Homo sapiens: one gene and its partners. The protein of the gene in region 4 interacts with the protein of the main gene of each other region in a pairwise test. Each region holds a gene or a part of one and is shown on either strand. Other genes may lie near its edges.

Region 1 (8,573 bases), on a different chromosome or scaffold from region 4:
TTACAATCTCAACTTGGAGTCAACGTCCTTCCAGACCAGGCCCAGCCTCAACTCTGGCTATTTGCCTTACAGGGGTACCATGCTGGCCACATCAGACTTAAGTTTCCAGACTACAAAGTGCAGTTTCTGGACAGGCAGAGCTGTTTGAACCTATAATCCCAAAGCTTTGGGAGGCAAGGGTGGGAGGATCGCTTGAGGCTAAGAGTTTGAAAGCAGCCTGGGCAACATAGCAAGACCGTCTCTACAAAAAAAATAAATAAATAAAAAATTAGCTGAGCACATTGGTACATGCCTGGCGTCCCAGCTACTCAGGAGGCTGAGAAGGGAGGACTGCTTGAGGCCAGGCATTCAAGGTTCCAGAGAGCTATGATCATGCCACTGTACTCCAGGTTGGGCGAGAGCGAGACCCCGTCTCTTTTTTTTTTGGAGACGGAGTGTCACTCTGTCACCCAGGCTGGAGTGCAGTGGCGCGATCTTGGTTCACTGCAACCTCCACGTGCCGGGTTCAAGCAATTCTCCTGCCTCAGCCTCCTGAGTAGCTGGGACTTAAGGCATGCGCCACCATGCCCGCCTAATTTTTTGTATTTTTGGTAGAGACAGGGTTTCACCATGCTGACCAGGCTGGTCTCGAACTCCTGACCTTGTGATCCTCCTGCCTTGGCCTCCTAAAGTGGTGGGATTACAGGCGTGAGCCACCGCACCGGGCCAACCCTGTCTCTTAAAAAAGAAAATTGCAGTTCCCACTCCAGGCATTTGCTTATTCCTGCCCTGCTGCTGGTAAACCTCTATTTCTCATTTGAGGCAGACCTCAAATGTCCTCTTTTTTCCCCCCCACCCCAGAGACAGGGTCTCATTCTGTCACCCAGCCTGGAGTGCAGTGGTGCAATCATACCTCACTGCAGCCTCAACCTCCTGGGCTGAAGCCATCCTCCTGCCTCAGCCTCCTGCAGAGTTGGGACTATAGGTGCACACCAGTGCACCTGGCTCTGCACTGATTTCTAATGACTAAAAGGATGACTTTGATCCTTTTCTCGGTCCCTTGCAACAAAAAATAAGGAAACCTACAGGAACGAGGGCCTACGTACCTGAGGCTTCTTAATACATCTGTAAGATGGGGATGGAAGAGAGCAGGAGTGTCTACAGAAGGCACCTTTGTCCTCTTTCCCTTGGAGGATCCTAAATGATCCTCCCCAATTTGCCGTTGAGAAAGACCAGGCCCTTCTCCAGCTGCCTCTCCCGGGCCTCAGCGTCCTCTAGCTTCTGATTTTTTCGGAATTCACGGCGGATGGAGGCAAAGTAGAAGTCTCGATCAGTGTAGCGAAGCTGTCGGCCCTGGCGCAACAGAGCCCGATAGAGACTCAGCACCGCCTCTCGGCTCCACGGGGCCATGGGGGACTGGCAGGGGCTGGGTGTCACACTATAAACAGAAGGAAAGACATACAAGCCTAGTATCAGAATTAATAACAAAAGGACCTGTAGAGACTATGTGAGGGCTTTTTAATCCAAGTTCCAGAGACCCCCCGCTCCAGGTCACCGTATGACTTAATGGCAAGACTAGAACTAGAGACCCCAGCCTCTGGATGCCCATTCTGGAAACATACAGGTTGTGGTTCACCAGGGCTCAAATCCTGGCCCTGCCACTTACTTGCCATATGACTTTGGGCAAAGGACTGAACCCCCGCTGAGCACCAGCTTCCTCACTTATAAAATGGAGATTAGGATATTATGGCAATAGTACCTACCACATAGGATTATTTTGAGAACTGTGCACGTAATGAACGGTAATAGAACTTCACCACAGGGGGTGATCTAGGAGGGTTGAAGACAAGCACTCAGCCATACTTGAATCCTGGCACCAGCACTTACGAGCTGCATGACCGTGGGCAAGTCTCCTAACCTCTCTGTGACTGTCTCAGTTCCTCATCTGTGAAGTGAGGATAAAAATCATATTTTGCCCATACGGTTGGCATAAGCACTAAATGAGTTTAATGTATGTGAATATGTTTAGAACAGCACTTGGCACACACGAAGCACTCTATCAACAGCAGATATTATTAGTAGCACCTAGCCAGGTTTGTAAATGCTCAATAAATAATTACATTTAAGTATAAACTGCCACTGCCTTCCTTCAGTAACAATAAACCCTTACACAAGCATATCTGTAAAGTGCTTTGTTGCCCATGACCACATTTAAATTAAGAATCTAGAAGGTGGTCAGGGTTCTTAGTAACAGTAAATGCTTATTGCATTATATTGCACTATATACAACGTGCAATGTTCGAAGCATGTCTCACATAACAACTCATTCTGTCAGCTACCCTAGGGGTCAACATTACCCCATTTTAAGTGGAGGAAACAATCTCCCAGAGGGAAGTAACTTGCCCGCGGGCCCACAGCTGTCAAGGGGAGGGCTGCACTCCTGACCCCAACTCTGCCTGCCTCTGGAATGAGTTACCCTTTGCTGGAGCCGGACCGTGTGTACAGCACTTCTGGGTGCTCCACGAACTTTCCCAGCACAGCGCTTGGCACATACAAGGGGCTCAAAATTATGCGTAACGGAGAGAATTTCACAACGTCCCTATGTGGAAGAAATGATCACCTCCGTTTCAGAAATAAAGAAATGACACCAAGTGGGGGAAGTATTTGGCTGGAAAAAAAGATTGGACTTTGGGCCCAAAGTCCGCGAGCCCTTAGCCTCCGGCCTTGCTAACTTCCTGCGCAAGCTTGAGCAAGCCACCATCCCTGCCCATTTTTCCTCAACTGTTTAAGAGATCCCTCGGCCCTAAGGACCTCCCGATGCAGAAAATCAACAGAAGTGTTTGATGCTGTAAAAGGCGACTGTCACGGCGAGGGCTGTAACTACAAGGTCGCTGGGCGACTGGGCGGCTGAGCCCCAGCCAGTCTGCACTTCACCAACCGTGGGGGCCGGGCCGGGGTGCGGAGGCCCAGAGGCCAGGGCAGGCCTGCTTCGGGGCACTGGAGGTCTCCGAGGTTGGGGCGGGGCGGGGCAGCCGAGGGGTCTCCCAGGGGAAAGTCCAGGGCGGGATGGGGCGAGACCCCCGGCTGCATGCTGGTATCCTGACTCCGGGCCGCATGCGAGGCGCCGGCAGCAGCCTGAGAGGAGGCGCTGCAACCTCCCCGCCGCCCAGCCGCCGGCGGCCCTCATTCCTTCTCTCACTCACCCGCAGGCCGTGCGCGCTACCACTCCGCAGGACTCGCCTCTGGCCGGGTACCTCTCCCCGGGTCACCCATCAACATGGCCCCTTCACTTCCGGGACACGACCTTGCGCACGGAGCTGCGAAGGGGCTGAAGGGAGCACGAGGGCGAGTGGAGGCGGAGGGACTTCCGGTCTTCTCCAAGCTCTCTCTCGGGCCCCGCCCCCTGCGCATGATTCCGCCCCCCAATCCTGAGCCCCGCCTCCGTGTGTGACCTCACCAAGGGACTGGCCTGCAGAGGCCACTCGCGCCCCGCCCCCAGAGGACTCCGGTGTCCGGGTCCGGCTGTGGGTACCGGGGTGGTCCCGATGCTGGCAGAAGTTCAGAGGGCAGGAGGTAGCCTCGCTGTCCAACAAGGCTGCCGCACCGGGTAGGCCCCTCACCTGCTGGCAACCCCTTAGCCTGTCGGGGTACCTGGCCAGCCTCCTGTACTGTATATGCTGATCTCTGGCTGGGGCCCTGGGGTACCTGAGGGAATTCTAACACTAATATTCAGAGCTCCTCAAAACCCATTTTCTCAGATCGCCTTCTTTTCATCCCTCCATGCTGTTCCTACTCCCCAGGCCCCATGGCTTCTGGCAAACTCCTACCCTTCCTTCAAAGTCTACCTCAAATGCCCCCCTTCACTGGGAAATCTCTCCCAGCCCCTTCCTCGCCTCCCTCTAACACACTCACGTGCCTTCTTTGGGCCCCACGGAAATGTCTGCACATCTTACGCCTCATAATCTGTTCAACAACAAAACGTATTTCTTGGCGCCTACCATATGCCAGGCACTGTAATTTATCCATTTGCTTCTCTGTCTCTCACTAGATTTGAGGACGGAGGCCGTGTCTCTATGGAAGCTCCCTCCCCCAACTGCCTCCCTCCATGCCTGGCTCTGCCAAGCCCAGGGCCTGGGGCTTTGGAGTCCGGGGCCACCGGGGCCACCGCTGGCTCCTAGTTCCAGTTCCACCACTTAGGGACAGCTGCCCTCTGCCAAGTTTCCTAACCTCACCCAGCCTTGGGGCTGTGGTGAGGATTAAAAGGTAATATCTACCAGTAGAGGGGTGGGCAATTGCAGAATAGTCAGGCTATCTGATAAAAGGACGAGAACCAGGAGAAGAACATTGCAGGGAAGAGCATTTCAGGCCTCCCCCCAGGTAAGCCTTTAAGCTCAGCGTGGTCTAGGAGCCACAGGGAGAAAGCCAGTGCTTTCGCAGCTGAGTGAGCAGGAGCTGGGAAAGAGGCCAGAGGGGAGGCCCTTACCAGAACTGGGAGGGAGATGGCGGGTGCAAAGGAACCACAGCAGGGTTCAGAGCCAAGAAGTGCTGGGATCTGACTTCCCTTTCAATGGGATCTGTCTGGCTTGAGAATAACGGAATGGAACCAGGGCTGAGGCAGGGAGACCAATCAAGAGTCTGTTGCAGGGCTGGGCACGGTGGCTCACGTCTGTAATCCCAGCACTTTGGGAGGCTGAGGTGGGCGGATCTACTTGAGGTCAGGAGTTCGAGACCAGCCTGACCAACATGGTGAAACCCCATCTCTACTAAAAATACAAAAATTAGCCGGGAGTGGTGGCATTGTACCTGTAATCCCAGTTACTTGGGAGGCTGAGGCAGGAGAATTGCTTGAGCCTGGGAGGCAGAGGTTGCAGTGAGCCAAGATCACGCTACTGTACTCCAGCCTGGGCGACAGAACAAGACTCGGTCTCAAAAAAAAGAAAAAGAAAAGAAAAGAAAACCAAGATGGAGAGAGGCATAGTAGTTTCTAAGACACTGAGCTAAGAAGGAAAGAAGCTTTCAGTGGAAGCCAAGTCTGTCTTACTCTGAAATGTGTGTTCTTTCCACTCTTTCAGGCTGCCCTAATTTGCTTTTTAAAGAATTTTGTGACCCAAATAAATATAATTGGTGGCATTTCCATCGGCATACCAGATGACCTCTTCATATCTCTCCTGACTTTCTTGTTCTATGGAATGTTATTTTTCGGAGGGAGGGACAGAGGGAGGTCATTTGGAGGGGTCTCCCCTTCGGATCAGCCCCTCTAGATCCACTTGCTCTTCAGGGTCTTATCTTTACTTAGACTGACAAGGCCTCTCCCTGCCCCCGATGCTTCCGTGGCAATGGAGTGTGGGCAGTGAGGTGGTATCTAGCACTTACATGTACGTACCCATGGTGCCTTTGTAGGCCAGAGACCCACGGCAGGGGGCACTGACCCAAACCTCAGGGCTCTGCCAGGTTTCACAGGGCAAGAGGCATTCCAGGATCTCTTGGATTGATATTGCAGGGTGTTTGTTTGTTTGTTTGTTTGTTTGTTTTGAGATGGAGTCTCGCTCTGTCTTTAGGCTGGAGTGCAGTGGCGCGATCTTGGCTCACTGCAGCCTCTGCCTCCCGGGTTCAAGTGATTCTCCTGCCTCAGCCTCCCGAGTAGCTGGGACTACAGGCGCACACCACCATGCCCGGCTAATTTTTGTATTTTTAGTAGAGACGGGGCTTCACCATATTGATCAGGGTGGTCTCGGTCTCTTGACCTCGTGATCCACCCGCCTTGGCCTCCCAAAGTGCTGGGATTACAGGTGTGAGCCACCACGCCCGGCCAGATATTGCAGGTTTAACAGTAACCCCCCTGATTTCACATCCAGATGATGGCATCAGCCTCTTAATGGTGATCATGGCTGGAGGGAGAGAGGGGAGCACTCGCTTACCCAGAACAGTGACTCACATATAGTAGTGAATGGGTGTAATTGTTGAATGAATGAACGTTTTGTGGAAAGACAGGAGGGATGGACCATTTCACCTGGGTCAGGGTGATCAAGCCTGTCTCATTTGAAAGGTGGGTTGGTGGTGAGTGCAGGGCAAGTGCGTTGGGCTTCGTGAGCCTTAGTCCCTCCACCTGTGTATTGGAGATGGTGAGAAAGGACTAGCTTATCAGGCTGTTGAAGATTAATCAGAGAGGGCATGTGAGGCCTGATGCATGAGGTGAGGGGTGGCTAATTATAAAATGTCATTGGAGGCTGGGTGTGGTGGCTCACGCCTGTAATCCCAGCACTTTGGGAGGCTGAGGTGGGCGGATCACCTGGGGTCAGGAGTTTGAGACCAGCCTGGCCAACATGATGAAACCCCATCTCTACTAAAAATAGAAAAATTAGCCAGGCATGATGGCAGGCGCCTGTAGTCCCAGCTACTTGGGAGGCTGAGGCAGGAGAATCACTTGAACTCAGGAGGCGGAGGTTGCAGTGAGCCGAGATCATGCCACTGCACTCCAGCCTGGGCAACAGAGTGAGACTCTGTCTCAAAAAAAAAAGAAAGAAAGAAAAGAAAAAATGGAGACAGTGATTTTGCTGGAAAGGGAAAGAGAAGATGAAAGGACAGCTACAGGGGACAAAAGCCAATTGTATGTGTTGCATCTGGGTTTGTTTAGGGGTTGGCTGGTATTTATTCTAGCCTTGATGCAGGGAGGGGGCAGCCAGAAGAGGGAGAGAAGTTGAAAAACGCAGAGAGAGGGAGCCCTCAATGGCGTGATGTCACAGAGGAGACAGGGGACAGTGAGAGAGGCCAGGTGCCCCTTAGCTGCAGGGGGAGCAGGGAGGGACAGCCCAGGCTTCCCAGCAAAAGGGCAGAGGAGCCTGTGTCTTACCAGTCTCGTTCCCTTTGCTTTGCCCAGTAGGATGCCTTATAAAATTGAGACCCTGTGTAAATGCTTAGAGGGAATTAGAGGGAAATTGCTACTGGATGATAAGGCAGAAAGCTCAGTCCAGCCCACCCCCTCCTCCCCACCCCCTCCCAGGGGTTACTCCAGGCTGATGGAGGAACAGAGGAATCAGGAGTTCCTGGTTCCTGTAGCCAGATCAGGAAAGCTCTGGGAAGTCAGCCAGCCAGCGACTTGGAAATTACTGTCAAAGAGAGAGCCTCCTCCCTCTTAATGGGGTTTGCTGTCATCAGATGTCATTATTCCTGTATTCACCAGACAAGAACCTGATATCCCCAGGCAGAAGGGCCGGTCCCCCATTCACCTGTAAAATCTCCACTGCCCACATTGTGCCAGGTGGTGTTGAAAGGGACAAAGGGAATGTAAGCTTGCTCACCGAACGCCCTCTTGCAGGTGGATTGGCTGCCTTTGAATTAGATGTCTACTGCAGTCCAAGGGGATGGGACAAAGTAGTAGGATAGGATAACAGGGGCTCCCTGAAACTATAGCAGAATTTTGACTTGGCACTGCTGTGATGGGGAGCCATAGACTATTTTAAAGTTGGGGTGTAGTGGCTGGGCGCAGTGGCTCATGCCTGTAACCCCAGCACTTTGGGAGGCTAAGGCAGGCAGATCACTTGAGGACAGGAGTTCGAGACCAGTGTGGCCAACATGGTGAAACCCCGTCTCTACTAAAAATACAAAAATTAGCTGGGCGTGGGGGTGCATGCCTGTAATCCCAGCTACTCAGGAGGCTGAGGCATGAGAACTGCTTGAACCCAGGAGGCAGAGGTTGCAGTGAGCCGTGATCACGCCACTGCACTCCAGCCTGGGCAGCAGAGCAAGACTCTGACTCAAAAAAAAAAAAAAAAAGTTGGGGGTAGTGATAGAATCAGAGCTAGGATGTGAGGCAAGGCAGGGCTGCTGGGCGTAGTTGTTCATGTCACACACTGCACAAAGGTACCACATCTAAGGGGCACCTTTCACATCAAGACCTTGTAGAACTGTATGTTTCTTACGACATTTCTTTGGCAGAAGGCAGTTTATCATTCTAACGAAATCAGTGCACGATGGCAGTTTTCCAGTAAATGGAAGTAAAATGTCTGGAGGAAGGGATGCCCTTGCCAATGAGTACAAAGGCCCATATGGGCTGGTGTCAGCCCTCATGGAGAATTCATTGGTCAAGACTGGAAGAGTCTCTCGGTCTTGGCACCATCTTCTTGGAAACCTCTGTGCCACGAGAGCTAAGTGGAGGAAGAAGCAAATATACAAGTGGAAGCGCAAAAGAAGAAAGATGAAGCCGGGCAAGGTGCCTCACACCTGTAATCCCAGCACTTTGGGAGGCTGAGGTGGGCAGATCCACTTGAGGTCATGAGTTAGAGACCAGCCTGGCCAACATGGCGAAACCCCATCTCTACTAAAAATACAAAATTAGCCAGGCGTGGTGGCACATGCCTGTAATCCCAGCTACTTGGAAGACTGAGGCAAGAGTATCATTTGAACCCAGGAGGTGAGGTTGCGGTGAGCCGAGATCGTACCATTGCACTCCAGTCTTGGCAACAAGAGCAAAACTCTGTCTCAAAAAAAAAAAAAAAGAAAGAAAGAAAGAAAAGGAAAAAAGAGGCCGGGCACGGTGACTCACACCTGTAATCCCAGCACTTTGGGAGGCCGAGGTGGGCGGATCACGAGGTCAG
Region 2 (7,776 bases), on a different chromosome or scaffold from region 4:
AACAGGAACACAGAACTGTAGCTCTGGAGTCTTCTGGAGGTCTCCAGATTCTCAGCTGCTTGCGCACAGCCAGGGCTGCCTCCATGCAGTCCTGACCTCTCACGCCCTAGTGTCTGTGGATGCTGGCCCTGGTTTTGGTACCCAGAGTCCTACCTTCCAGGCAAGTTGGGAGGGTTGGTTAGCAGTCAGCTTCTAGGAGCTATTTCCTGCTGTCCTGAGGCCATCCTGGCACTGTCTGTCAGCATCCTGTGTCCCCATTGGGCATTTACCACAGCCTGGGGAGCAGTTGGTTACCTTCTTTCCCATCCGCCCTACAGACTATAAGCTCTGTATGGGTAGACAACGGGTCTTTCAGATTTCTACTCCAGTAATAACTGCAGGTAGAAGATGTTCTTTAAATCTTTTTGAAGTATTTTTTTAAGTGGATGAAGTCAATACGGCTTAGGGTGCGTGCAAAAATACTTGTTTTGCTTTTACAGTTGATTATTTTAAGGGGAGACATTTAATTATTTCTAATTACTTTTTGTCATTTGTCCTGTAGGTTCCCCCTAAAGGACTCAAAACGTCTAATCCAATGGTTAAAAGCTGTTCAGAGGGATAACTGGACTCCCACTAAGTATTCATTTCTCTGTAGTGAGCATTTCACCAAAGACAGCTTCTCCAAGAGGCTGGAGGACCAGCATCGCCTGCTGAAGCCCACGGCCGTGCCATCCATCTTCCACCTGACCGAGAAGAAGAGGGGGGCTGGAGGCCATGGCCGCACCCGGAGAAAAGATGCCAGCAAGGCCACAGGGGGTGTGAGGGGACACTCGAGTGCCGCCACCAGCAGAGGAGCTGCAGGTTGGTCACCGTCCTCGAGTGGAAACCCGATGGCCAAGCCAGAGTCCCGCAGGTTGAAGCAAGCTGCTCTGCAAGGTGAAGCCACACCCAGGGCGGCCCAGGAGGCCGCCAGCCAGGAGCAGGCCCAGCAAGCTCTGGAACGGACTCCAGGAGATGGACTGGCCACCATGGTGGCAGGCAGTCAGGGAAAAGCAGAAGCGTCTGCCACAGATGCTGGCGATGAGAGCGCCACTTCCTCCATCGAAGGGGGCGTGACAGATAAGAGTGGCATTTCTATGGATGACTTTACGCCCCCAGGATCTGGGGCGTGCAAATTTATCGGCTCACTTCATTCGTACAGTTTCTCCTCTAAGCACACCCGAGAAAGGCCATCTGTCCCCCGAGAGCCCATTGACCGCAAGAGGCTGAAGAAAGATGTGGAACCAAGCTGCAGTGGGAGCAGCCTGGGACCCGACAAGGGCCTGGCCCAGAGCCCTCCCAGCTCATCACTTACCGCGACACCGCAGAAGCCTTCCCAGAGCCCCTCTGCCCCTCCTGCCGACGTCACCCCAAAGCCAGCCACGGAAGCCGTGCAGAGCGAGCACAGCGACGCCAGCCCCATGTCCATCAACGAGGTCATCCTGTCGGCGTCAGGGGCCTGCAAGCTCATCGACTCACTGCACTCCTACTGCTTCTCCTCCCGGCAGAACAAGAGCCAGGTGTGCTGCCTGCGGGAGCAGGTGGAGAAGAAGAACGGCGAGCTGAAGAGCCTGCGGCAGAGGGTCAGCCGCTCCGACAGCCAGGTGCGGAAGCTACAGGAGAAGCTGGATGAGCTGAGGAGAGTGAGCGTCCCCTATCCAAGTAGCCTGCTGTCGCCCAGCCGCGGTCAGTACCGGAGCCTCGCGTACCCATGTTCCCTTCCCGTTAGGAGGGGTTTCTCTGCAAGGTGGCCAGCGTCCCCTGAGCATTTCTGGGAGGTGTCACAAGCTCCCTGCGCTCTCAGGAGGAAGCTCTGGTCGTAACCATACCTTGTGGATGAGGGAATCCAGGTTAGAAAGCAGGCCTCACTGCACCTGGTCCCACAAGAGGCATCTGTGTGTGTAGGGATGTAGGCCGTGAAGGAGGCAGGCAGCACGCGTCAGCCAGGAGTGCCTGAACGCCTCCGTGGAGAGTGCACAGGGAAAGATAGCTTCTGTTTCATACCTTATGCAACAGAAATTCCAGATGAGTTAGGAACTAGATGGAAAATAAGAGAGTAAACTCTCAGAAAAAGCAAATATCAGAAACTGTTAAAATCATGAGGAGGTTCTTTCTGTTCACGTTTTAAGGAATATCCTTGAAGTTAAATCATCATGAACATTAATAATTATTTTAACATCTATTCAATTAAAACATCTGTTGAGGCTGGACTCGGTGGCTCACACCTGTAATCCCAGTACTTTGGGAGGCTAAGGTGGGCAGATCACTTGAGGTCAGGAGTTCGAGACCACCCTGGCCAATATGGTGAAACATACAAAAACATACTACTAAAACATACAAAAACTAGCTGCACATGGTGGTGCACGCTTGTAATCCCAGTTATTGGGGAGGCTGGGGCAGGTGGATTGCTTGAACCTGGGAGGCAGAGGTTGCTGTGAGCCAGGATTGCACCACTTCACTCTGGCCTGGGTGACAGAATAAGACTCTGTCTCCAAAAAAAAAAGACACACATCTATTGAAACACATTCTCAGCCGGGCATGGTGGCACACTCCTGTAATGCCAGCTACTCAGGAGGCTGAGGCAGGAGAATAGCTTGAACCTGGGAGGCGGAGGTTGCAGTGAGCTGAGATGGCACCACTGCACTACTCTTTGTCAGCCTGCGTGACAAAGAGCACAACTCTGTCTCAAAAGAGAAAAAAAAAAAAAAAGAAATACAATACATTCTCTGTTGCAAAAATTAAAACTGCAGAAATAGACTAAGAAGTGGTAAAAAAATTATTGTTTGTCATCCACCTCCCAAGTTCTATTCCTTGTTGTTATTAAAAATTTGGTGTGTAAGCCAGGCACAGTAGCTCTTGCCTGTAATCTCAGCACTTCGGGAGGCCGAAGAGGGAAGGTTACTTGAGTCCAGAAGTTCAAACCAGCCTGGGCAACATAGGGAGACCCCATCTCTATAAATAATTTAAAAATTAGCCGAGTACCATGGTGCACGCCTGTGGTCCCAACTACTTGGGAGACTGAGGCAGAAGGATAGCTTGAGCCTGGGAGGTCGAGGCTGTAGTGAGCTGTGATTGCACCACTGTACTCCAGCCTAGGTGACAGTGAGACCCTGTCTCAAAAAACAAAATTTCCTGTGTAATCTTTGTATGTATATTAGCTCTATTTCTGTTTTTTCCCATATTTTACTGTTAAGTATTTCTTAAAATTGGTTTCTAGATGTTTACATATGGCGGATGGTTTCCTTTGCCTGTCGTGTACATAGGAAAACCATATTCCTACCACATTGTTGATTTCATCTGGATCAATGCTTGTCAATAAGTATATGATAGTGGGACAAGATTTTCAGGACCTCCTGGATCCTCAGGGTAACAGCTATTAGCACAACCGAAAACAAAGCCCATCCGACATGTTCTCCAGATGTGTCCTGGGGAGGAACGGTGCCACTGAGTACTGCTGACCTAGATTTTCAGATCAAATCTAGATTTTCGGATTCTTGGGTTGAAATTGTATACTGTTTTTCTCTTGGAATTTTATTTTATTTTTTGAGATGGCATCTCACTCTGTTGCCGAGGTTGGAGTGCAGTGGTGAGATCTCAGCTAACTGCAACCTCTGCCTCCCGGGTTCAAGCAGTTCTCCAACCTCTGCCTCCTGGGTTCAAGCAATTCTCCTACCTCAGCCTCCCAAGGAGCTAGGATTACAGGCCCCTATCACCACACCTGGCTAATTCTTATATTTTTAGTACAGATGATGTTTCACCATGTTGGCTACAGTTGTGAGCCACCACACCAGGCCTTCTCTCGGAATTTTTTTTTTTTTTTTTTGAGACGGAGTTTTGCTCTTGTTGCCCAGGCTGGAGTGCAATGGTGCAATCTTGGCTCACCGCAACCTCCACCTCCCGGGTTCAAGCAATTCTCTTGCCTCAGCCTCCCGAGTAGCTGGGATCACAGGCATGCGCCACCACACCCAGCTAATTTTGTATTTTTAGTAGAGACAGTGGTTTCTCCATGTTGGTCAGGCTGGTCTCGAACTCCCGACCTCAGGTGATCCACCCGCCTCGGCCTCCCAGCTTCTCTTGGAATTTTAAAGCTGTTTGTAGTTATCAGAGCTAATGCTGCTTTAGACAGCTTCTCTCTGTTCCTCTTGGTTAAACTTCCTGAAGTTTGTCTCCATTACAGGTTTTTGCAAACAGCCAGCCCTTCGTGTCTCTGAGTTGTTGTTTATGCTGGTTAATCCTTACATCTTTTTGCTTTGTTGGGTTTTTTCTTGTAGTTCTGGTTCCTGGCGTGTTCCTTAACCCTGCAATGGAGGCTGTGGCTCTGCTGTTCCTTGGGCTGCGTGCCATGGATCTGCCTCTCTCTGCTTTTGTTGCTGTTCATTTCTGAGTCGTTTGTAATTCCAGCCTCGATGCCCCCTTTAACCCTGTGGTTATTTAAAAGGGTGTTGACAGATTTTTCAGTGCACACAGATTGGGCGAGGGGAGCAAATTTTTTTGTAGTTACTTTAAAATTTGATTGCATTAAGGTCTAATGGTAAGGACTGAAGGAGTTCTGCTTTTTGGAATCCTTTGAGACTTCACTGTGGCTAACACAGTCCCTTTTTGTGACTGTTGCAGTGTAGTGCTAGAAGAATGTATCCTCACCACTCCTTGGTTATATTGTTCCCGCCTGAAGCTGGGCACTTGCTTACTTGTGTTAGTCAGCGGACCAGAGCGTTCCCTAGCTTCTTGTCAGGCTCTCGGTCTGCTGATTTCCAGGAAAGGTGAGGTAGACCTCCCCTGTGGTTCTGGAGGTGCCCGTTTCTGCTTGTATGTCCAAGTTTTGCTTTCTGCCTCAAGACCATGCTGTTTGATGCATAAGTTTTCCTGTTACCAACACAAGAAACTCCTTTTTGTCCCGTTTAACGTCTTATTTCTTCATTTCCTTATTTTCAACCTTTTCATCTTATTTTATAGTTATATTTTTAACTCAATCCAAAAGTCTTTTTGTAGAGTAATTTAGTCATTTACAATTGTGATTACTGATAAGTGGGAATTCGGGCCTACCTTTTTAATTTGTTAGGCTTCCTCACCGTTTTCTTATTATTCTTCTAGTGGATATGTTTCAATTTTTTCTTTTCTTTTTTTTTTTTTAAGAGACAGGGCTTTGCTCTGTCACCCAGGCTGGAGTGTGGTGGTCCTATCACAGCTCACTGCAGCCTTGACCTCCTGGGCTCAAGCCATCCTCCCACCTCAGCCTCTCGAGTAGCTGGGACTACAGGCACATACCACCACATCCGGCTAATTTTTAAAATTTTTTGTAGCAATAGGGTCTTACTATGTTGCCTGGGCTGGTCTTGAACCCTTGGCTTCAAGGGATCTTCCCGTCTCAGCCTCCCAAAGCTCTGGGTTTATAATTGTGAGCCACTGTGCCCAGCCCATCTTTCAGTTTTAAAAACAAACACGTGAGCCCCTCTTTGTGTAACTGTTGAGAGCTGATCGGTCCTGTGTGCCACCTTCCCTAGGTGGAGGCTGTATGTCATCTTAGTTCCGGTGCTTCTTATTCCCCCATCAAGCAACCATGATTATTAGATTGAAGTATACATTTTACTGGTTACTTTATTTACCATTGTTTGCTGTATCCAAGTTTCCCCTCCTTTTTGGCAGTATTTAATGACTTTTTTTTTTTTTTTTTTTTTTTGAGACAATCTCAGACTGGAGTGCAGTGGCATGATCTCGTCTTACTGCGGCCACGACCCCCTGGGCTCCAGCGATCCTCTCACCTGAGCCTCCTGAGTAGCTGGGACTACAGGCATGTGCCATCATGCCCGGCTAATTTTTTGTGTGTTTTTTTGTTTTTTTGTTTTTTTTGTTTTTTGTTTTTTTTTTTGTAGAGATGGGGTTTTGCCATGTTGGCCAGGTAAGCCACCGCACCCAGCCATGACTTTAAAAAAAAAAAATCCTATTCCAGTACAGTTTTGAGGGGGGCGCTGGTGACTGTTGTGGCAGTCCCAGGGTAGATGGCGATGGCTCAGACTTTAGGGAGGAAGTGGCGGTGGTAGCAATGCTGGAGTACTGGCTGGGTTCAGGGGGTTGAGAGGCAAAAGATCAGCAGGCCAGCTACAGGGATTAGGCTTGAGCACCTGGAGGATGCTAAGTGGGAGAGGCTTTTGGGGAGGAGCAGGAGATGGGGGTGAGGAACGGAGTTTGAGATGCTCTTGGGTGCTGAGGCCAGAGTTTGAACAGGCAGTCTGAGGCCAGCAGCTGGCCTCTGGGATTTGGGCATGTGAGTGTGGGGGTGGAGGGCAGAGGTGTTTGAAGCCTTGGGGGGTCGAGTGTGGTTCTAGGCTGGGCTTCAGTGCCCGGCCCAGGAGCAGGCCTCGCTGAGAGAGGGGCAGCCGAGGCGGGTCCAGGGGAAGGCTGAGGGGTTGTTCAGGAAAGAAGGGTGACTTGCTGTGCTGGGTGCTACTCTGACCAGAATGGAGAGAAGGGGGCTGGATGTGCCCCAGGATAGTGGAGAGAAGGGGGTTGGATGTGCTCCCAGGGTCGCTGGTTACTGGAATCTCACTGGAGAGGCTGGTGGAGCTGGGCGGAGAGGGGGCCAGTGATGAGGGGTCAGGGCCAGGTTTGGCCGTGAAGTGGAGTGAGGCAAGTAGACAGGAGCCAGAGGGAGTGTGGCTCCAAAGAGAGTGTGTCAGTGGGGAGGGCTGTGAAGGGCCAGGCTCTGGAGAGCAAGGGACAGGTGCAGGCACCACCCTGCATGCCTTGTGCCCCTCCAAAGGTGAGGCCAGGCCACGGCTGGGCATGCGGTGTGGGCACAGGGGTGGCAGGAGCGAGGGTGTGGTGGGGAGAGGACATCCTCTCCCTGGGGTTGCAGTCTGTCACGCCGGCGTCGCAGGCCCTGGGGTCTGCACTCTGTGGTTCTTGCTGTCCGTGTGGATTTGTTCTTCAGTGACAGACTCTTTGGGTCATTCTTTAGGGATTTATGTGGAAAGCGCCGCACACTTGTCTATTCAGCTCGCTAGCCAGTGTCTGCTTTTGGGCAGGTTCCCCAAACTGAAGGATGCGGGCCAGTGGGCTTCAGAGGTGGGTTGAAGCCACGCTCCAGAGGCAGTGCCCGGTGGCGTTCTGTGGACGTAGTGTTCTTCTCCGCCAGCAGCGATTCCTTGAGGGTACATTGTTAGCACGTCTATGAACCACGTGTTCGCGGTCTTGCTTGCCCACTGAGTTATAAACGTTCTTGATACAGTAAGGATACCAACGCCTGTTAAATATTATTCACCTGTTTCCTAAGTTCAGCAATTTAACACTTGCTTCAAAATCTGTTTTCTTTTTATTCCTTTATGGATTCATTATCTACATATAATTCTTGAAATCTGGATTGTCAAAATCCAAGTACAAAACAAGTGAACCTTAATGTAAACTATGGACCCTATTTGTAGCAATGAATCAGTATTGGTTCGTAACTTGAGACACACATACCCACACTAATGCAAGATGTTAATCATAGGGGAACAGGGCAGGGGGTGAGAGGGTGAAGGAATTCTCTGTACTACCTGCTGGATTTTTCTGTCCTAAAAACAATCTGTTAATAAATAATAAATGGAAGCTGAAGAGTTTGGAGAAGTGCAGACAAAACAGGAATGTCAGAAGAGTGATAAATGGTGAAACTAGGGACATGTGTGTGGATTTATTACACTAATCTGTTTAATTTGTAATGTTCAAGATTTTTCACAATATAAAGTTGTTCAAAAATCCAGATTAGCTGGGCTCAGTGACTCA
Region 3 (7,776 bases), on a different chromosome or scaffold from region 4:
CTTGCTGGAAGTTGAGCTTCCCTCAAAAGGACCACTAGGTCACCTTCCAGTTAACTTTCTAAGTTCTCTCCCAGCCCCATCACTTTCTTATCTTTTGAAGGTGATGAGGTCTAAGTACGCTCTGTAAGGGGTGGACCCTGTTGACTTTGCTCACTCCTGGATCCTCAGTGTGTGGCACACAGTAAGCACTCAGATATTTGACAATAAGCAGCTGATGTGCCAGAGCACAAACTGAATGGGGGCTGTCTTGGCATTCTAACAATTAGAACAGCAATAAAAATCACCAAAAATAATGAGCATTATTTAGTGCATTATCTGGACGGGAAGGATTTGTAAAGTAGCTAATGTATACAAGAAATTGTTGCATGAATGCTGAGTAATTACTAAGATAACATCAGAAAAACTAAAAAATAGCTGGGCACAGTGGCTCATGCCTGTAATCCCAGCACTTTGGGAGGCTGAGGCGGGCGGATCACGAGGTCAGGAGATCGAGACCATACTGGTGAACACGGTGAAACCCCGTCTCTACTAAAAACATAAAAAATTAGCCAGGCATGGTGGCGGGCGCCTGTAGTCCCAGCTATTCGGGAGGCTGAGGCAGGAGAATGGCGTGAACCTGGGAGGCAGAGCTTGCAGTGAGCTGAGATCGTGCCACTGCACTCCAGCCTGGGCGACAGAGCGAGACTCCATCTCAAAAACAAACAAACAAAAAAACAAACAACAACAAAAAAAACTAAAAAATATCAGAGTGCAATTTTAAGTAGATGTGAAAACGATATTTCCCTATACATTATTTGAAAACACTGATCATACAGATGTGTTTACTCACTGGGCTTTTTTTTTGAAGTAGGGTCTTGCTCTGTCACCCAGCCTGGAGTACAGAGGCACAGTTGTGGCTCACTGCAGCCTTGAACTCTTGGGCTCAAGCGATCCTCCTGCCTCAGCCTCCTGAGTAGCTAGGACTGCAGGTGCATACCATGATACCTGGCTAATTTATTATTATTGTTATTTGTAGAGATGGGGTCTCACTATGTTGCTCAGGCTGGTTTCAAACTCTTGGCCTGAAGTGATCCTCCTGTCTTGGCCTCCCAAAGTGTTGGGAGTACGGCATGAGCCATCACACCTGGCCACTGGGCTTTATTTTAAGGCTAGAGCCTCGCCTTGCCAGCAATGAAAGAAGTGCACAGTAAGCCAGCTGTATGGCATCATAGATACCTACCAATTACTTAAAATGATAAAATCAATGAAAGGATGGCTCCTAGGAAACAAGTACCCCACTGGCTGCACCCAAAGCATTTCCACCATTTTGTTTTTGGTTTGTTTTTTTTTTGAGATGGAGTTTCGCTCCTGTTGCCTAGGCTGGAGTGCAATGGCGTGATCTCGGCTCACCACAACCTCCGCATCCTGGGTTCAAGTGATTCTCCTGCCTCAGCCTCCTGAGTAGCTGGGATTATAGGCATGTGCCACCTTGCCCAGCTAATTTTGTATTTTTAGTAGACAGGGTTTCTCCACGTTGGTCAGGCTGGTCTCGAACTCCCGACCTCAGGTGATCCGGCCGCCTCGGCCTCCCAAAGTGCTGGGATTACAGGTGTGAGCCACCGCACCCAGCCTCATTTCCACCATTTCTATCTTTTGGAAGAACAGACTAATATCAAGGGTCATGATGTGCAGAACATCTGTTGACAGACCAAATGCTCTATTCTTTCCATTTGGAGAACATATCTCAAGGAAATAAATTGGAAAGGGAAAAAACCCAGTAATTTGTACAAAGATTTACTGTAGAATGTGATGAAGAATTGGGAAAAGCCAAATGCCTAATAAAACTATGTCAGTCAATACACGGAACTGTTTACACATAATAATAAGTGGGATAAACAGAACATGGTATTAGTTACATAGAAATACTGAATAAAAACAGCAAAAGTATATTAATGAATATTAAACAAAATTTAAAAATTTAAGGTAATAAAAAAAGCTGAATTTAGAGTTCATTCAATTCTTTCCTTTTGCAAAGGTAATTGTTTCTAATTTTAAAAGCCAAGAAAGAGCCGGGCACAGTGGCTCATGCCTGTAATCCCAGAACTTTGGGAGGCCAAGGTGGGCAGATGGCTTGAGCCCGGGAGTTAGAGACCAGCATGGGACAACATGGCAAAACCTCATCTGTACAAAAATATACAGAAATTAACCAGGTGTGGTGCCATGCATGCCTGCCTGTAGTTCCAGCTACTTGGGAGGCTGAGGTAGGAGGATCGCTTGAGCCTGGGAAATAAAGGCTGCAGTAAGCTGTGATTGCACCACTGCACTTCAGCCTGGGTGACAGAGCAAGACTCTGTCTCAAAAAAAAAGCCAAGGAAGTTGCAGAATATAGAAGTAGATATAAGTCTTCCCTTCCTAATGTACCAAACACTCAAAAGCCAACATTTTCAAAATTTCACTGAACAAAAAAAGTAATTTTGTTCTTACCTGTTTGCAGTCCAAGTTTGGTTGAAGATAGAGGTGTCACTGAAGGAATTGCAGAGGATTAGGGAATGGACTCTAGGAGATTTGTGAGTGTATTCAGCAAATTTCTGGGCCAAAAAGCCTCCCAAAGAAGCGCCAAAAAGATGAACCTAATTATAAACAAATATAAGGCAGATTCTGAAATACTGATCAATCTTGAACCTGAGTATTAAAAAGTTGCTTCAATTATCACTAACCACAGAATATGTTATCACTAGCCAATAGACTAAAATATTTACAGCAGCTAGAAATTTAGAAAATATTGTATTTAAATGCAATTTATACAGTCCATCAAGATAATACAACTTGGCATCCAAGTTATATAATTAAAAAAAATATCATTCACAGATTGCATTAGAAAACAAAACCAGTCCAGGCACGGTGGCTCACACCTGTAATCCCAGCACTTTGGGAGGCCGAGGCAGGCAGATCACGAGGTCAGGAGTTCGAGACCAGCCTAGCCAGCATGGTGAAACCGTCTCTACTAAAAATACAAAAAAACTAGCCAGGCATGGTGGTGCGTGCCTGTAGTCCCAGCTACTCGGGAGGCTGAGGCAGCAGAATCGCTTGAACCTGGCAGGCGGAGGTTGCAGTGAGCCAAGATCGCACCACTGCACTCCAGCCTGGGCAACAGAGCGAGACTCCGTCTTAAAAAAAAAAAAAAAAAGAAAAGAAAAAAAGAAACCAACAAAACCAAGCTAGGGAAATATGGAAAAGGCCTGTATACTAAAAATACAAAAATTAGCCAGGCATGGTGGTACGTGCCTAGAGTCCTAGCTACTTGGGAGGTTGAGGTGGGAGGATCGCTTGAGCCCAAAAGGTTGAGGCTGCAGTGAGCCATGATTGCACCACCGCACTCCAGCCTGGGCAACAAAGTGAAAGCCTGTCTCAAAAAAAAAAAAAAAGAAAAAACTCAAAACCACTTAGTGGTTTATGTCTAAGAAAACTGTGATTCAGTAATTCCACCCCTAAACACATACCTAAGAGAACTGAAAACATATGTCAACACAAAAACTTGTACATGAATGTTCATGGCAGCATTATTCATGATATCCAAAGGGTAAAAACAACCCAAATGTGCATCAGCTGATGAATCGTTAAACAAGATATGGCATATTTATAAAAATATGATTTAACTGTAAAGAGAAACGAAGTATTGATTCCGGCTTCAACATGAATGAACCTTAAACTCACAATGCTAAATAAAAAAAGCCAGTCAAAAAGACCACATATGATACGATTCCACTTATGTAAAATATCTAGAATAGGCAAATCCATAGAGATAAAAATAAATTAGGTTGCAGGGCTAGTAGGGGGGAAGATGAGGACCGACTGCTAATGAATATGAGGTTTTTGGCATTAAAAAAATTATAAAACATTGACTGCAGTGATGGTTGCACATACCTGGGAGTATACTGAAAAACATGGAACTGTATACTTAAAAGGGTAAATTATATGGTATATGAATTATGTTGCAATAAAGCTATTATTAAAAAATAAAAGAGGGCTCGGCACGGTGGCTCACGCCTGTAATCCCAGCACTTAGGGAGGCTGAGGCGGGCGGATCACTTGAGGTCAGGAGTTTGAGAGCAGCCTGGCCAACCTGGCGAAACCCCATCTTTACTAAAAATACAAAAACTAGCCGGGCATGGTGGCACACGCCTGTAATCCCAGCTATTTTGGAGACTGAGGCAGGAGAATCACTTGAATCCGGGAGGTGGAGGTTGCGGTGAGCCGAGATCGCGCCACTGCACTCCAGCCTGGGTGACAGAGTGAGACTTCATCTCAAAAAATAAAAAAAAAATTGTATGTATGTAATTAGTTTCAGGGTACTCACTTTATCCAATTGTAAATGGTCTAAAAGTTTTCTGAATCCATCACAGAACTCGAGATGGTCCCAATAAACTGGATACTGCAACTGAAATAATAACGATAATTTTATTTTTAAAAATCATAAAAGTAAAAATGCAACTCACGTATTTGAAAAACTTAGGACTCAAACACTGACATTTCTCGTTTGCTCAAGCGCTGCTCCTTATTCAAAATATGTAAAAATAAGCTCTCACTTTTTACTAAACTTCATATTTCACATTTTTCTAACAGACCAAATTAAAAGAGTATAAAAAGTAAGCACACTCTAATGATATTACGTGAGTAACAATTTCAATTCCCATCAATTTCCTTTCTAAATAGCTGAAAAAGTCTGGGGTTCAAGGATGAATACAGCAGAACCCATTCCAGTAAAGAAATACCGTTTTCTCTTAAATCTAATTTCATTCAGAATTATGGCTCAGGAGAGATGGAAACAAAATTTGTTCTAAGGAGAGCTTCCTCTCTTTTTGGTAGCATTTCTTTAAGAGGGTATTCAGTAAAATTGTTCCTCTTCTTTTAAATGACTTAGTTACTCTATTTCATTTATTGTACTTTGGGGTGTCTGTTTGTTTCTTGAGACAGAGTCTCCTCTGTTGCCCAGGCTGGAGTGCAGCGGCGCGATCTCGACTCATGCCACCTCCGCCTCCCGGGTTTGAACGATTCTCCTACCTCAGCCTCCTGAGTAGCTGAGATTACAGATGTCCACCACCACACCCAGCTGATTTTTGTATTTTTAGTACAGACACAGTTTTGCCATGTTGGCCAGGCTAGTCTCGAACTCCTGACCTCAAGTGATCTAACTGCCTTGGCCTCCCAAAGTGTTGGAATTTTAGGCGTGAGTCACTCCACCCAGCTTGTTTGTTTTTGTGATAGGGTCTCACTCTCTCTCACCCAGGCTGGAGTGCATTGGCACGATTGTAGCTCACTGCAGCCACAACCTCTTGGGTGCAAGCGATTCTCCCACCTCAGCCCCCCGGTAGCTGGAATCACAGGCATGCACCACCATGCCTGGCTAATTTTTATATGTATACTTTTTTGTAGAAATGGGGTTTTGCCACGTTGCCCAGGCTGGTCTTGAACTCCTGGGCTCAAGCGATTTGCCTGCCTCAAGCAATATAACTGCCTTAACTTCCCAAAGTGCTGGGATTACGGGTGTGAGCCACCATGCCAGGCTACTGTACTTCTGTTTGTGACAAAAGAAGTATGGTACTTGACTATACGTAGCCTATCTATTAATGCTGGCAATGATGAGGAAAAAGAAGTACAAGTCACAAACTCATTTCTAAGGGACTCAGGTTTGTCCCCTAAGAATTCCTTTTTTTTGTTTGTTTGAACTGGGGTCTCGCTCTGTCGCCCAGGCTGGAGTGCAGTGGCGCGATCTCGGCTCACTGCAACCTCCACCTCCCAGGTTCAAGCGATTCTCCTGCCTCAGTCTCCTGAGTAGCTGGGACTACAGGCATGTGCCACCACACCCGACTAATTTTTTGTTGTTGTTGTATTTTTAGTAGAGACGGGGTTTCACCATGTTAGCCAGGATGGTCTCGATCTCCTGATCTTGTGATCCGCCTGCCTCGGCCTCCCAAAGTGCTGGGATTACAGGCGTGAGCCACCGCGCCTGGCCAAGAATTCCTTTTTTATATACATATAAAACCAACTGGCTGGGCGTGGTGGCTCACGCTTGCAATCCCAGCGCTTTGGGAGGCCGAGGCGGGTGAATCACTTGAGGTCAGGAGTTCGAGACCAGCCTGGACAACATGGTGAAACCCCATCTCTACTAAAAAATACAAAAATTAGCCAGGCATGGTGACAGGCACCTGTAATCCCAGCTACTGGGGAAGCTGAGGCATGAGAATTGCTTGAGCCTGAGAGGTGGAGGTTGCATGAGCCGAGATCATACTACTGCACTCTAGCCTGAGTGACAGAGTGAGACTCCATCTCCAAAAAACAAAAACAAAAACAAAAAAACTCCCCCAAAAACCTCGTCTAACAGGCTTACTGTTTAAGCACTTAGGTTCATTTTGTTATTGATGAATCACTGGAATGGATACTGCCATATGAATTATGGAATCATTTTAGATTTGATGTATGACTTTCATTATTAAAATTCTATTTGTGGATAAGACTTCCACCATTCCAAGAAAGAATGGGGAACTGATTCTACCTAGCAGAAAGTTTGAGAATTTGAGTCAGATGATAGCCTAAAAGAAAGGGGATGATACTTTCATGGAGTCTTTAATTTATAAATATCCATGCCCACACAGGTGACAAAATTATATGCAACTTAATACATACAAACAAATGAGTTCAAGCAGAACTGGGGAAGCCTGAATGAGATTGGTAGATTGTAGTAATATCAATATCCTGGTTGTGATTTTGTACTACAGTTTTGCAAAGGTTCGGCAGAAACTGGGGAAATGTGTAAAAGGTATATTTCTCTTTACTATTTTTTACACTGCATGTGAATCTACAATTACAACAACAAAAAAATTTAAATTAAAAAGATCTGTGCATTTTAACTGCTAGATACTAACAAATATTAAATAAGTTCCAAAACCTCATGGAGCTGAACATTCTGATCACATCTTGATGACAAAATAATTTTGAAGACACTGTTGACCTTTTCTTGATTAACTCTCCTCCTAATGAAACAGGGAAAGCGCACAACAAGAACCTTGAGAGTGAAGAAGAAACATCCAGCCAGAAGCCAAGGCTCTCATGACCTGCCACTGTGGAGCGAGAAACACACTGCTGGACAGCACTCCCGAGTGGGACGGGCGCCTATGGGTTGCTCGGTTTCCCCCTCCCTGGCTGATCAACAGGGGCCACCAAAAATGGTAGTGTCATGTCTCAGGCTGCAGAGGGCTGGGATGAGGGCAGTTCCCACCCTGTTCTAGAATGCTGTTTGTGAAGAGGAATGACTGAAAATCTGAACAAAGGAGGATTATGTTGCAGAGGCTCAAACATGTCACGTGAGGAATGGTTAAAGAAGCTGGAGAAATTAAGCCAGAGAAGAAAAGACCCAGGAGAAAAGCAGCAGGTAGTGATGATAACTGTTTTCTCAAGTAAGAGACGGGCTCTCAGGAGGAAGAGGAACTGATTTCCTTTGTGTGGCCTCAGTTGGTGGTAACCTCAGTAGAATTTTCAGTTACCTTCCAAAAGGAGAGACGTGACCTGCCTTTTCATCCCTTTAAACAGTAAATAAAACGTACACTAACAGCAGTACTCCCACTGGGAGTACCACTTACAAGTGAATACTGCAGGCGACTGCCAGCTAAAGAGACTCTCTCCTTCCTGGAAAATTAGGAGACCAATGTCCTGACCAATGTGGAAGCATGCAAAAAAAAAAAAAAAAAAAAAAATCAGTCACCAGGAAGAGTGCCTTTCCCACACACCTTTCTCCCAGAG
Region 4 (7,776 bases):
ATGTATACACACACATTCTTACATACCTGCCTTAGGAGCAAAGTACCAATTTAACTTATATTCACAGACAGATTTTCAGTGATTATATGTAAGACTATAAGCATATTTAGAACATATATTCCTATCTCCCTGCCAAACCATGTTCCTTCTTTAATTCTTAGTCTTTTCTATCCAAATCCATCTGACTCTATTAATGCTAGAAGTCTTTTTGATTGATGTATGTGCAATATGAGAAATATTTATGGAGTACCTACTACATTCATACTTGAACTGCAAGCTGGGAATAAAATGTAAGGCAGTCTCCTATTCTAGTGACACTATTTCTAGCCAAGTACACATTCTAGTGGGTTGGATAAACTATCATCTTTATTTCTTAAGCCCTCCTGATTGGACCATAAGCTCCTTTTCCACACCACAATGCCTCCAAATAAACTAAGGATACAATGGGTGAAATTTCATCCTGTTAATAAGTTCCCAATCCAAAACTTTTATCAAGAACACATTTATATATATATATATATATATTTTTTTTTTTTTCTGAGACAGAGTCTCGCTCTGTCACCCAGACTGGAGTGCAGAGGCATGATCTTGGCTCACTGCAACCTCCACCTCCTGGGTTCAAGCGATTCTCTTGCCTCAGCCTCCTGAGTAGCTGGGACTACAGACATGCACCACCACGCCGGGCTAATTTTATATTTTTTGTAGAGACAGGGTTTCGCTATGTTGGCCAGGCTGGCCTCGAACTCCTGACCCCAAGTGATCCGCCCACTTCAGCCTCCCAAAGTGCTGGGATTACAAGTGTGAGCCACCGCACCTGGCCTTAAATAATTTTTAAAACTGACATTTACATTTGTATAGCTGTAACATAAAACACACTCACCATGATTATGAGCCAAGGCATGTAAATTAATAGCCTGTCTGAAATCACTATTTTTAGTACCAATTACAAGTGTCTAAACAGAAAAGACACCAAGAAGGAAGTACTGAAAGCCACAGAAAGCCATGCAAATTACCCCCAAAATGTCACCTGGAAAATATTTGCTCCTAATACTGTATTTTGCTAATAAAAATAACATTGAAAGATCCAACATAACCAAAATGATAAGCAAAATAGAAAAAGTAAATACTTGCCAAGGAGGGAAGGTGACAGAGAACAATGAGAAGGCAAGACACACTAAGATCCCAAAGTAGATAAGTAACAATCTCTAGAGGGAAATACAAATGGATAATAACATCTATAACCTCTCTAGGAAACAGACAAATTGAAGCCTATAAGCTCTGTAATTTTTTTTTTAAGGAAATGACTAGAGAGACTGAGGCAGAAGGACTCCTTGAGCCCAGGAGTTCAAGGCTACAATGAGCTAGAATTGCATCACTGCACTCTAGTCTGGACAAAAGAGAAAGACTCAATCTCTTAAAAAGAGAAAAGAAAAAAAAGACAATAAAAAGGCAATTTACGTAATAAGAAAAAATATTTGCAAACCAAACATCCAATAAAGGGTTAATATCCAGAACATATATATAAAAAAGTCGTACAACTCAACAACTAATCTGATCAAAAACAGGCAAAACAGCCTGGCACAATGGCTCAACCTGTAAGTCCAGCACTTGGGAGTCTGAGGCAGGAGGATCACTTGAGCCCAGGAGTTCAAGGTTATGGTAATCTATGATTGAGCCACTGCACTCCAGCCTGGGTGACAGAGTGAGACTGTGTCTCAAAACACAACAAAACAAAACAAACAAACAAACAAAAAAAACGGGAAATAACGAGTGTTGATAAAGATGGAGAGAAACTGGAATCCTTGTGTACTGTTGGTGCAAATGTAAATTGGTAAAGCTATTATGGAAAACAGTATGAAGGTTCTGAAAAAATTAAAACAGAATTATCATATGATCCAGCAATCCCATCTCTGAGTATATTTCTAAAAGAAGTGAACACAGGCTCTCAAAGAGATATTTGCACACTCATGTTCATTACAGCATTATTCACAACAGCCAAGATGTGGAAGCAACCTTAATTTCCACTGATAGATAAATAATAAAGAAAATGTAGTACATACATACAATGGAATATTATTCAGCCTTAAGAAGGAAATTGGGTCATGTGCTACACACGCATGAGCCCCGATATCATGCTAAATAAAATAAGCATCACAAGAAGACAAATACTGCATGATTCCACCTATATGAGGTATCTAAAGTGGTCAAACTCATAAAATCACGGTTTCTATGACTGTTACCAGGGGTAGGGGATGGAGGAATGGGGAAGTTGGGAAGCTGCTGTTCAATGAGTACAGAGTTTTCATTTTGAAAAATGAAAAAGTTTCAGAGATCTGTTGCACAAGGTACATACAGTTAACACTATCGTACTGTACATTTAAAAACGATTAAGATGGTAAATTTTGTTATGTATTTTTTTACCATGAGAAAAAGAGGGCATTGACAGTTATGTTTTCCAGAATGAGATTCAGTAACAGGCATCGAAAAGCTTACATATATTCACCTCCTTTGACCTGTCTATGGAAATTTATCTTAAAACAATTTCTCTTAAAGCAGTATCATAGCTAAAATGGAATGTAAACCTACTCCAGGAGAGAAAGAGTTAAATAAACATTTGAATAGTGGAAGAGTGCAATTATCAAAAATTATAGCTTGGGGAAACTTTTTTTAATGATGTGGTAAAATTCTTATTATCAAATAATATCCAAAACAAAAAACAAAACTGTTATGTGTAGTGTATACAGTATAACCCTAATGAACATATATTGGGGTATTGAATAAAGAAACAGACCAAATTCTAACTGTGAGAGAGAGACAGAGAGAGAGAGAGAGAGAGAGAGAGAGAGACAGACAGACAGAAAGGGGAAAGGGGGGAGGAGAGAGAAGGAGAAAAAGATCTGCCAGCATGATTTTTGTTGAATTTTCACCTAGATAAGTTGATTCTAATGTTCGTTTGGAAATAGTCTGGCAAGAATACCTAGAAAAAAACTGACAGAAAAAAAAATAGAGTAATCAGAGCAAACTAGCCCTTCCAGACATTTTTACATTTTATGAAGCTACAATAACTTAAACTAGGTTTAGCTGCTGGCAATGAACATACAGATAAAGAGAAAAGAAAAGAATGTAAGAATTTAGTACATGACAACAGTGGTATTTCAAATCAATAGAGGAAGAAGCCATTAGTCAATGAATGGTGTTAGGCAGTTGGGTGGCCAATTGGAGGTGGAGGTGTTAAGATTTATACCTCACATCTCATTATCAAAACAAACTCCAGATTGAGGAAAGATTTAAACATAAAAAATAAAACCATAAAAGCATAAACTCAAAGTGAGGGAGGCATTTCTAAAAATGATTCAAAAGCTAGAATCCATAAATGAAAAGAGCCATTAGTTAGGCTGGGTATGGTGGCCCACTCCTGTAATCCCAGCAGCTTGGGACGCCCAGGTGGGCAGATCACTTGAGGCCACAAGTTCGAGACCAGCCTGGCCAACATGGCAAAACCCCATCTCTACTAAAAAATACAAAAAATTAGCCAGGCATGCTGGCACGCACCTGTAATCCCAGCTACTTGGGAGGCTGAACAAGAACTGCTCGAGCCTGGGAGGCAGAGGTTGCAGTGAGCAGAGATCATGCCACTGCACTCCAGCACTCCAGCACTCCAGCCTGGGTGGCAGAGGGAGACAATGTCTCAAAAAAAAAAAAAAAAAAAAAAAAAAAAAGAGCTATTAGTATTTCTTCTTGGTTAAAAAAAATCACTATAAAGTCAAAAAAGGTATGACAAACTAGAAAAAAAATTAACAACTCATCTCATAAACGGGGTACATTCTATAAAATACAATAGAAAAATTGGCAAAAGATATGGCCAGATATTTCACAGAAAATGCCATGTAGATTGTAAACATATCAAAAGAAGTAAACTACCTTTATATTAAATATATATAGTAAGACTTATACTGAGAAACCATTTTTCCCCTATAAGACAAGCAACAATGGAAAAGTGTGGCAACATCCTGGCCACATGGCAAGGGAAAGCAAACGCTCGCACATGCTGGTGGAAGTATAACTGGCACCACTTCTATGGAGCAGAATTTGGCACTATCAAAATTGAACAGCCACATTCTTCTAAGAATTCTTCCTACAGACACACTGGCATTTTTATGGAATGACTTGCATACACATACATTTGCTGCAGCTTTGTTTTAACAGCAAAATATCAGGGTGAAGGAGTTCAGGACACAGCATCCCAAAACATTCCACTTTAGCATGCTGATTATTTTGGGCTAAAGGCACTTGAAAAACAGCAGGTGTTAAGAAGGGCACCCAAACCTCCTCTCTTTTTCCTGAAAGCAGAAGATGAAGCTCCCATATGAAAGATGTCCTCCCTCTACCAGGAAGAAAGAAACATTCTTATCACAGGAAGTCCAAGCCCAAAGAAATCTGCATAAAGAAACCTTGCTAAACTAAACCTTACCTTCCTAGTTACTTTTCCACAACTGCCACTCTTTTTTTGACCTAGTATATAATCGATCAGGCCAAGCCACTTCCTTGAGTCTTCATTCCTCTTGTGAGGGTAAAAGGTATGTAATACATAAAAAGCACTAAATAAAATTTGCATGCTTTTCTCCTGTTAATCTATCTCATGTTGGTTTAATTCCTAGGCCTCGCCAGAAACCCTAAAAGGGTAGGGAGAAATTTTTCCTCCCCTACAAGGCAAAATGTAAATGTTCATCAACAGGGAACAAGTTAAATATTGTCTATAACAGTATATAAAATGTTACATCTATAAATAAATACATACAAATGGCCATTAAAAATGGAGCTGCTCTAGGCCAGGCGCAGTGGCTCACACCTGTAATCTCAGCACTTTGGGAGGCTGAGGCGGGAGGATCACTTGAGGCCAGGAGTTCGAGACCAGCCTGGACTACATGATGAAACCCATCTCTACAAAAATAGAAAAATTATGGCGTGGAGGCACACGCCTGTAGTCACAGCTACTCAAGAGGCTGAGGCAGGAGAATCACTCGAACCCAGGAGGTGGAGGTTGCAGTGAGCCAAATTGGTGCCATTGCACTCCAGCCTGGGCAAGAGAGAGAGACTCACTGCAACCTCCGCCTCCCAGGTTGAAGCGATTCTCCCGCCTCAGCTTCCCTAGTAGCTGGGATTACAGGCATATGCCACCACACCCGGCTAATTTTGTATTTTTAGTAGAGACAGGGTTTCTCCATGTTGGTCAGGCGGGTCTCCAACTCCCGACCTCAGGTGATCCGCCCGCCTTGGCCTCCCAAAGTGCTGAGATTACAGGCATGAGCCACCACATGCGGCCATTAAAGTGTATTTTTTAAATACATTTAGGGTTTTTTTAAAAGGGCAAGTTATAAAATGCAATATTCAATAAGAAATTTTGTGATTTGTTGGCCGGGCACAGTGGCTCACGCCTGTAATCCCAGCACTTTGGGAGGCCAATGAGGGCAGATCACCTGAGGTCAGGAGTTCGAGACCAGCCTGACCAACATGATGAAACCCCATCTCTACTAAAAATACAAAAAAATTAGCTGGGTGTCGTGGCATGCGCCTGTAGTCCCAGCTACTTGGGAGGCTGAGACAGGAGAATTGCTTGAACCCAGGAGGCAGAGGTTGCAGTGAGCCGAGATCACGCCACTGCACTCCACCCTGGGTGGCAGAGCGAGACACTGTTAAAAAAAATAATAATAAAATTGTGATTTGTTTAAAGCATAGATACATGAACAGGTATAAATTAATATGCTAACTATGATTTCTCATTCTCGCACAGGATTATGGGTAATTTTCTTTTTTCTCCATCAATATTTCTGATTTTTCTAAAATAGACAACTATTCTTAGGTTCCAAAAGGCATTTTTACATTCTTTTTTAAAACTTCCACTAAATATTAAAATTCCTTAATCCCCTGGAAACATTTTTCTAATAAAAATACATGGCTAAAATTATGGTTTCAGTACAGCTGGTACCCACTAGTTTAAATAAAATTTGGGAATGTCTCAGAAGAGAGATTTCACAACAGTCAATAATTAAGGCAGAAATAATTAACCCCAAAAGGAAAATAATCTTAGCCTACAACAAAAGACTTAGTAGCACAGAAGTTCCAGGGATTTGGGTGTTCTTTTTGGTTTTGCACTGTGAGTGAGCGTATTTGTTTTTATTACATGCATACATTATTCTGTTTTGAAATCTTGCTAAAAGATCACAACCCCTCCTACCACTCAGCTATTCCCCTAGGGACTAGGCAGCCTGCCACATAAAAATAAATGCAGGAAGTGAAGAAGAGCTAACAAAGACATCAGCACCATATGGAAATCACGAAACTGTTGACCAAATAAATTAACAGCCTGGATGGGGTGGGTCACACCCAGAGACTTGGGAGTAGACCCTCAAAATTATTATCCATTATTCTCTACATTTGCTTTATTTTTAAATAAATGATACCCCACATTTCTGTTATTTATTTCTAAGGCACAATTACAATGTTAAAATGATAGTGACATATTATTGTGTTATTCTTTTTTTGAAGCCTTTCCTCTCTAGTTTTTTGGCCTCAGGAACCATTCCTCTTCCCCTTAAAATTATAAAGTTGTTTTGCTTTGTTTAAATTCAAACTAGTATAATGTGTAGTGGGCTACGTGACTGTCACTTCTATATAACAGTGCTAAACTAAAGGTTATGACTAACATGAGAGCACTCAAGTATACATATTTATTCAGCTCCATAAAAGGTAGTCAGGAGGGTTTTCTACACAATGTATGCTCTAGTTAGCAACACTGCTCTATCAAAGTAGGAAATACCACACACAGTAAATGTGCTGCGCTGAGCTTAATGCTTGGAAACTCTTGAAAGGCATGATGCAATTTAACGTATTTTAAATCATTTGATGTTCACTGAACTCTCACTGTAAGCAGAGTATTGTATTCAAGCCCTAGGTATGAGAGAAAGTAGAAAAACAACAGAATCTGGGCCTGATACTACAGAGCATTAGAATACTCGTGGTTGAAAACATAAGGAAAACTCAGTGTTTATTTTAAAAATTTACAGCTCTGTTAAGTACAATCAGTAGCAAGAACAGATTTTTTGATAACTTCACATAAGAAGGTTGGAAGAGGGATTTTCAATAGATAAATGCATGTAAGACAAGAGGTAGGGCATTTAATTTTACAACTAGAGTTTCATTAGGGATTTTTTAAGGGACAAATATAAGAAAACTCCATGTACATTAAAAACTATTAAAAGTTCAACAAATCCTAAAATTTTCTGCTTTGGTTTTAAGTATGTTGCCAAAATCACAATTCAGGAGACAATCACAGAGTTTGATAAACCTTATTTCAGCCAACACAGTTTGCTAGTGAACACCAGGTTTAAAATCCCAGGTTGTGCCTTTTCCAGTTTAAGGCAGGAGTCTTGCTCCAGATTCACTTAAGACTGAGTCATCCACTCTACTAGTTCTAAGATCTTCCATGTAAAGTTATCCTCCAAGCCCAGCACTGCCTTATCAGCAACTCTCTGGCTAAGTTCTGCTTCTTGAGAATAGACAGGGAAAACAGAACAGGAGAAAGTGGGAAACAAGAGATGGATTTGGAGGGACACAGAGGTTACTATGGCTGGGGCCTGCTCTTGGACACTTTCCTCACTCATCTTAGGCAGTCAACACATATTTCTAAGCACCTACTGTGTGCACTGGTAACATAAAGATGAAAAGGCAGGTAGGCAGGTGGAAGCAAGAGTAAGGAATGGCCAGGTGGTTTTGTTT

Evidence for each region.
Region 1: the proteins of TPD52 (region 4) and MIEF1 interact in binary tests that used the Homo sapiens proteins (3 or more experiments, as listed by UniProt).
Region 2: the proteins of TPD52 (region 4) and THAP4 interact in binary tests that used the Homo sapiens proteins (3 or more experiments, as listed by UniProt).
Region 3: the proteins of TPD52 (region 4) and SPG21 interact in binary tests that used the Homo sapiens proteins (3 or more experiments, as listed by UniProt).

What each region holds. Positions count from the first base shown.
Region 1 is NC_000022.11:39,497,047-39,505,619, reverse strand, and holds the start of MIEF1 (mitochondrial dynamics protein MIEF1), read right to left. Parts: upstream 3,331-8,573; 5' UTR 3,183-3,330; intron 1,418-3,182; 5' UTR 1,390-1,417; coding exon of another isoform or gene 1,177-1,389; 5' UTR 1,086-1,176; intron 1-1,085. Other genes in the region: MIURF (mitochondrial ribosome and complex I assembly factor AltMIEF1), read right to left, coding at 1,177-1,389. UniProt on the Homo sapiens protein: Mitochondrial outer membrane protein which regulates mitochondrial fission/fusion dynamics.
Region 2 is NC_000002.12:241,626,845-241,634,620, reverse strand, and holds part of THAP4 (peroxynitrite isomerase THAP4), read left to right. Parts: intron 1-541; coding exon 542-1,704; intron 1,705-7,776. UniProt on the Homo sapiens protein: Heme-binding protein able to scavenge peroxynitrite and to protect free L-tyrosine against peroxynitrite-mediated nitration, by acting as a peroxynitrite isomerase that converts peroxynitrite to nitrate.
Region 3 is NC_000015.10:64,972,139-64,979,914, forward strand, and holds part of SPG21 (maspardin), read right to left. Parts: intron 4,418-7,776; coding exon 4,337-4,417; intron 2,610-4,336; coding exon 2,464-2,609; intron 1-2,463. UniProt on the Homo sapiens protein: May play a role as a negative regulatory factor in CD4-dependent T-cell activation.
Region 4 is NC_000008.11:80,161,209-80,168,984, forward strand, and holds part of TPD52 (tumor protein D52), read right to left. Parts: intron 1-7,776.